Homo sapiens: one gene and its partner. The protein of the gene in region 1 interacts with the protein of each later gene in a biochemical or structural test. Each region holds a gene or a part of one and is shown on either strand. Other genes may lie near its edges.

Evidence for each region. The genes of interacting proteins can lie anywhere in the genome.
Region 2: the proteins of KLF16 (region 1) and SIN3A form a complex in vitro, tested with the Homo sapiens proteins (2 studies listed by BioGRID).

The regions. Positions count from the first base shown.
Region 1 is NC_000019.10:1,857,063-1,860,712, reverse strand, and holds part of KLF16 (Krueppel-like factor 16), read left to right. Parts: intron 1-3,650. UniProt on the Homo sapiens protein: Transcription factor that binds GC and GT boxes and displaces Sp1 and Sp3 from these sequences. Modulates dopaminergic transmission in the brain.
Region 2 is NC_000015.10:75,406,576-75,410,225, forward strand, and holds part of SIN3A (paired amphipathic helix protein Sin3a), read right to left. Parts: coding exon 3,559-3,650; intron 3,417-3,558; coding exon 3,261-3,416; intron 570-3,260; coding exon 480-569; intron 1-479. UniProt on the Homo sapiens protein: Acts as a transcriptional repressor. Corepressor for REST. Interacts with MXI1 to repress MYC responsive genes and antagonize MYC oncogenic activities. Also interacts with MXD1-MAX heterodimers to repress transcription by tethering SIN3A to DNA.

The DNA.
Region 1 (3,650 bases):
TAAGCTGGTTTTGGGGGACAGGAAGGCCATGCGTTTTTTTGGGAGGGAGCCCCATTGCAGGGCTGTCCCTGAATGGAGTGGAGGCCGGGAAAGATCCGCAGACGAACCCGAGTCACCGGTGGCTGCAGGGCTGTCCCGGGGGCCATTGAGAACGAGTTCCACCCCCACCCACCCCTGCCTGGAGTGCTTCTCTGTAAAGGGAACACCAGTCGTGGCCTGGCCCCATTTTTACAGATAAACCAACTGAGGCACACTGGAGGAGCCCCACCTGTGATTTCGGCCACATTTGGCCCTGGGAGCAGGGAGGCCAGGGGAGCAGTGGGATGTTCTTCATGGGGGCAGCAGGCGGCAGGACTGCACCTCCCGTCCCCTGGGTCTGGCCCACAGCCCCTATCCTAGCCCGGCCAGCTCTCGGCTCTCTCTCCCCTGCGTGGGGCGGGGAAGGACTTTGGAAGCTGTGGGTGATGTTGACGCCGTTGCTATGGTTACGGAGAGTGAGCGAGCCAGCGAGTTGGGGCGGGGGCGGGAGGAGAGGCTGGCTGTCGGCTCCCTGCTCTCCAAACCCCCTGCATCCCCGGAGGGCCCCCCCCCCGCCCCCGGCATGCCAGTGCCCGGCACACCGTCAGCCTGCACCTCCAGAGGGTTTGCCGACACCCTCCCCAGGAGAGGGGCTCAGACCTGGAAGGGTTCTTCTCACCCAGGGCTTCTCTCCTCCGCACTTACCGAGACATTTGGGGCCTGATCGTTTTCTGGGGAGGGGCTGTCCTGGGCACTGCAGGGGGTTATGCAGTGTCCCCAGCCTCTACGCACTCCATGGCAGGAGCACCCCCTCCCCAGTCGTGACAATCACAAATGTCCCCAGACCTTGTCAGGTGCCCCCCAGGGGGCTGCAGGGTCACCCCCAGTTGTATCCCACTCTGAAGTCCCCTGCCGCAGGCCAGCACCCAGCATCCCAGTCCCCGCGCCCCAGGACTTAGGGAACTGTGTCCGTGGTGGCGGGGGGCGGGGTGGGGGGTGGCAACAGGGATGCTAGTGATGACGGAAAGCGCTTCCTGGAGGAGGCAGCCTGAGGCCCACTGGGCTGGGTGGGGCAGGGAATGGGAGAGGAAGGGCGTGCTGGCTCTGGGGTCTGCTGTGGAGGTAGGGACTTGAGGTGGGGAGGGGGCACCTCGGCAAGGTGAATCCCTGCACTTAATCCCGAGGGTGGGGACGCTGGGGGCGGCAGTGAGGCAGGCTGGGCTTTGCAGAGGCAAATCCATTTATGGAGAAGGGATTAGGATCAGAGAGGGGTTGAGGAGGGCAGGACGAGATGTGGGAGGGATCGAGGCGTGCTGGTCTACGCACTGGGTTGGAGGGAGACTCCTCAGGACGAGGTGTGCAGAGGAGTGTCTGAGTGCCTGCCAGGTTTCTGATCCCTTGCTGAAGAGGGCCCCAGGAGGACAGGTGGGTGGGGAAACTGAGGCCCAGAGGGGGAAGCAGCCATGCCCCACTTCATTCTCTCCTCCACCCCCAGGCAGAACTATGCGCTCCTGTAGGGTTGGGATGGCAGTGCTGGTGGGCAGAGCTTGGGAGAACTGGCAGCTTATCTGGGGAGGGTCGGAGTGGGGCAGTGCCAGGCCATAGGGGGTGGGGGGTAGGGGGCCAGGGACTGCCCTCCCCCACCCACCGCCTCTCCAGCCTGCAGAGTGCAGAGAGCAGCTGGAACTGCCTGCAGGTGCCCCAGCTAGTGGGATGGGGAGGGCTCCCCCAGGGTTGTGGGGGGCGATAACCACCCCCACCCAGGCTCTCTGATAAAAGCAGCCCAGATCGGTGGGGAGGAGGCACATGATACCAGCAGGGTGAGCTGTGGGGGCGGGGGGCACCACCCTGGCTTAGACCATTTCTGGAACAGAGGTTACACAGGCACCAGGGTCCTTGAGGGGGTTGTCCCCTGCCGACCCCCAGGTACCCAGAGTCTGGTGCAGGAGGTCCTGGCCTGGGTTGGGCCTCAGGTGGGCCTCCTTTTATGTAGAAGGGAGTAGTGATAGTTTGGCGGCGGGGTGGGGAGGACAGGAGTATTCAAGATGCTGAGCAAACATTATCTGCCCTTGCTCTTGTTGGAACCAGAGCTTGATCCCCTAGGCCTGCATTCTCCTTTTCCACAGATATGCATTAAGCACCTGCTGTATACCAGGCCTGTGCTGGGCATTGCCGGGGACCCAGCCGTCAATGAAGTGCCTGCCTTCTGCTCCCACTGGAGTGCAGGGGTGCAGATATTACACCCACAAGATGCATGCGTTTTTGGAAGCCTGGTACAAAGACAGAGAAGCTGACCAAGGGTGCTTGGGGGGCACCAGGCCACTGTGAGGGGCACTGCTGCTCAGAGAAGCTCCGGGCAGGATCAGCCATCAGTTTTGACCCTAGGCCAGGGCGGAACTCAGGAAAGCCAAGCGCAGTCTGGGTGCCCAGGCGGGAGCTGCTGGACTACTGCACTAGTCCAGGAGTGAGCTGGGAGGGGCAGGGTGGGGCCTGGACGGATCCCGAAGGTGATGGGATTTGGCTGGCAGGTGGCACGTGGGGAGGTACGGGATTGACACAAGGGTGGGTATGCCTGCCTGCGTGTTTGGCGGGAACAGCAGGGGGTTTGGAAAGGGGAAGTCTACTGGAGGAGTGGGGATGGGGGAGGAAGGAAGCTTTGGCTTTGGGAAGTCAGGGGAGCTAGGGGCAGAGTGGGTGTGGGGGTTGCTATGGCCCAGTAGTATTCGAGACCCCACCCCCAGGCTGGCAGGGCCTCACCACCAGTGTTCCCCCTTTTCTGCAGCGGCTCCCAGAAGCAGCTGCCTATAGGTTCTATAGAACCTGCTCAAGGATCACCTTCAGGAGCTCCTCCCTTCCCTGGGTGGGTAAGAGGCCTCCCCAGCCCCAGCCTTTCCTGGCTCTCCTGGGATGCTTGCTTTGCGGCTGGGGCTGGTCTTCCCCACCTGTGCCCTCCCCTACAGACCCGACCCCACCTGTTAGGTGGACGTGAGTGCCCCGGCAGGCAGCCGGCCACAGCCCCCCTCCCCACCCCAAGGCCCCCCAGACAAGCTCAGGAGGTGAGGCTTCCCTGTCGGAACCAGGGCCCTTGGCACAGTCCCGCAGTCCTGTCTCCAGGCCCCTCCTGTGCCGGCTCAGACGGGGCCGGGCCAGGTTTCCAGGACTTCCTGGACTCCATTTTTCTGAGCCTGCCTGTTTCCGAGGCTGTCCTGAGCTCACCCGGGCCCAGCCTGAGTCAGAGGGTCAAGTCCACCGCGGCCCCGCCCACACTGCCCTCCCGCGTTGTCCCCACCCACCGCATCCTCAGGGCGCTGCGTCTCGGCCAGGTAGCGCGGAGCAGCTGGGTGGCTGTGCACCTGGGGGCCCGGCTGGCTAGGAGCAGCGCGCTCTGGGCCCCCACAAGTTCACCCCACCCTCCTCCCTGCGAGTGGATTGTGTGCGAGGCAGGGCCTGGCATTTCGCAGAGGCGCTTCGCCCAGCGCAGCGTGGGTGGGTAGCCCGTGCACCCCCTGCCCCGCCACCCACGTGCGCATGTGCGCGCCTCAGTCTCCAAGCGCGGGGCGGGGCTGGCAGGCACCCAGGCCGGAGAGGCGACCCTGGCCCGGGCCCCCTGGCCCCGGCGGGAGTGGGACCAC
Region 2 (3,650 bases), on another chromosome or scaffold:
ACTCGGGAGGCTGAGGCAGGAGAATGGCGTGAACCCCAGGAGGCGGAGCCTGCAGTGAGCCGAGATTGCGCCACTGCACTCCAGCCTGGGCGACAGCGAGACTCCGTCTCAAAAAAAAAAAGATTACAAGTCATCTTAAATCCTCAAAAATTGGTACAGGCACTGGTACTGCCTGCCACACAGACCTGGATATCTACAATGGGAGCTCCAAACATCTTTCAAGAGAAACATAATACATTTTCTAAAAATCTGTCTTCTGCCCCAAACTGCTTCATAAAACCAAAGCAAACAATGCTACCATTTTTCTAGCTATGCTAATAGTACTAGCAGACTCAAAGGACTCACAACTGGGAAACTATGTTAAAAAACAGAAAGTCCTAATTAGCCTGACACCTTTAAAACGAAACCTTCCAGGGGGATAAGATGATTTTCTTTTGGCATTAACAGGCACTATCAAATCTAACTCATCCATTACTCACCTTATCAAAAAATAACGATTCTGTTCCACCACCATGTTTGCTGGCATCTGCCATAGAAGAATCCTTCAGATTGAGCAGTTTGGGTTTCTTCTGCAAAAGAAAGATACAAACATGTGAGATTCAACGAGTGGTTTTCTCTGAATTTTATTTTTGTCTGTATTCAATGGTTTCATCACTGAAACCACTGCTGATTAATAATTTGAAACAAATGAGAGAACTCTAACCAACTCACTCCATACCCTCTAAGATTTCAACTCATATTTTCTATTTCAGTTTGCCTATTAAGTTTCTTTCTACAACAGAGGTTCAAAGATCATTCTACCCCCAAAATATTTTCTCCAGAAATGATCATGACATTACTGTGACAAACTTTTAGAATATCCTTACTTTTTCTAGGGGCCCAAAGTAACTTCATGTAGAATCTAATGCCACTGTTTTGTTCTCCTACCAGCTGAGGGAGAAAAGGCTGTTTGTAAAAAGAGCTCACAAATTGACAGAAATCAATCTTTAACCCTGAATAATATTTCAATTAAAAATTTACTTAAAAAGCATAATTTGCTGGGCATGGTGACTCATGCCTGTAATCCCAGCACTTTGGGAGGCCAAGGTGGGCAGATCATGAGGTCAAGAGATTGAGACCATCCTGGCCAACATGGTGAAACCCCGTCTCTACTAAAAATACAAAAAAATTAGCTGGGCGTGGTAGTGTGCGCCTATGGTCCCAGCTACTCAGGAGGCTGAGACAGAAGAATCGCTTGAACCCAGGAGGTGGAGGCTGCAGTGAGCCGAGATCACGCCACTGCACTCCAGCCTGGGCAACAGAGTGAGACTCCATCTCAAAAAAAAAAAAAAAAAAAAAAAAAAAAAGGCACGCCAGCAATATCCACTCAGACTAATTTAATATTGTTCTTCTAAAGGGAACCAACAGGCCATGATATAATCCTGTCAGGCAAGAAGTTACTTTTAAAATCCACCACTTACTCTCTATGAAGAAATGCACAAACTTTGTGAGAAGTAGCACATTTACCTTGGCTATCTCAGAGTATACTTTCTTAAGAGCCGCAGCCTCTGCTTACACTGCCTATGGAGAAAGTAGGCGGAGAATTTTAAGCCCCCACTATATTCTTGCCACCTGTAGGTAATCAAGAGTGGGCGGACGTAAATCCAAGCATGGAGTGTATCTACTGAGCTGATTCTTGCTACCCATATAACTAATTCTCTTTATTGAAATGAAGAAATAGAAACCATTATTATGTTCAACTTGATTTCAAAAGATTTCAAAAGAAGAAACCATGACAAACACTAATGAAAAGGATACTTCAAAAGTGTCAGTAACACCTAGTACGTCAGACCTTGTAGTCAGTCAATCACTATTCATCAGCCACCTCTTACTATTAGAAATTCCCAAACTTTTGTCATTATTTAATTCTGCAGACATATCTGTCTCTTCTATATTACATACTGCTTTGAAATTCACTGAAGAATTAAACATTCAATACATACAACTAGCCCTCTCCCTATCATAGCTGTGTTACATCAAAGAAGGGAGCAAGCTAAGTTTTCTGCAGGCAGACCATCAGTGTTAACTATAACAAAAAACATCATGTAATGGATTACTAAGAGGAGTTTAAGACTTCCCTCTGCTACAGCCCAAAGGTCCTGCCTTGGAGATTAAGATGATACACATAAGATCTGGTAACCCAACAAAGAACTTTGAGCAGGACAGGGTTCTAGACCAGAGATCTCAAAAAACACATGCACTCTACTCACAAGAGGACCTCAGAGACCACTTATTTCTGAAATAATTCTCAAGCTCAAGAATGTTCTTTCTTAACACAAGGCAGATTTAAAGCATCAAAGAAGAAGGGGCCAGGCGCGGTGGCTCACGCCTGTAATTCCAGCACTTTGGGAGGCCGAGGTGGGTGGATCACCTGAGGTCAGGAGTTCAAGACCAGCCTGGCCAACATGGCGAAACCCCATCTCTACTAAAAATGCAAAAATTAGCTGGGCGTGGTGGCACACGCCTGTAGTCCCAGTTACTCAGGAGGCTGCGGCAGGATAATTGCTTGAACCCGGGAGGCAGAGGTTGTAGTGAGCTGAGATCACACCACTGCACTCCAGCCTGGGCGACAGAGCAAGACTCCATCTCAAAAAAAAAAGAAGGGAAAAAAATTTCAAGTATTGGAAATTCTTAGTAGCAACCAAAACATTAAAGAAATGACAGCTCATTGCAAAGGAGAGATAATAAAGAACTCAGAAAAGTACAGTAATCCAAGCAATCAATGTTATTCTAATACTCTTTTGCAAAGCCAGATAAACTCTGCACTGAGTTTCTGTGACACAATACTAACTTCCTCCAAATATCTAGGACCCAACCGTTAACACACTTAAGAACACATGACTGCCGGGCACAGGTAATCCCAGCACTTTGGGAGGCCGAGGCGGGCAGATCATGAGGTCAGGAGATCGAGACCATCCTGGCTAACACGGTGAAACCCCGTCTCCACTAAAAAAAAAAAAAAATCAGCCCGGTATGGTGGCATGCGCCTGTAGTCCCAGCTACTCGGGAGGGCGAGACAGGAGAATCGCTTGAACCCGGGAGGCAGAGGTTGCAGTGAGCCGAGATCGTGCCACTGCACTCCAGCTTGGGCGACAGAGCGAGACTCGGTCTCAAAAAAACAAAAAAAAACAACAACAACAAAACACATGACCACCTCTAGAGTACCTCTCCATTAGAAATACTTGTGAGTGTCAAAATGAGCAGCTGCTGCCCATTCTCACCTTAACTGGAGGGGTGGTTCCTGTAGGATGTCTGCGGATCTGGCAGCCATTCTGGCTGGGCCTCTGCGGCTTGTTGTTCAGTTGGGGCTTCTTGACAGTGCCTCCATGATCATTTCTCACAGAATCAACCTTCTCAGCAGTTGTTTTGCTTAAAAGCTGATTAAGACACATGAATGAGATTAATGCTCTTATCAAAGCAAACAAATATCATCTAGGAAAAGTCCCCTTCTGAGCACAGTTTTCCAACTCATCTAAGATAATAATAGTAAATAGTGTAATTCTTATTAAAAAAACATACCACGGAGCTGTTGGCATCTGGTAGGAATTGTCCAAACTCTGACAACAAATCTTCCTGGTTTTTAAAGAGACGAGCAACCTGGGCATACACCT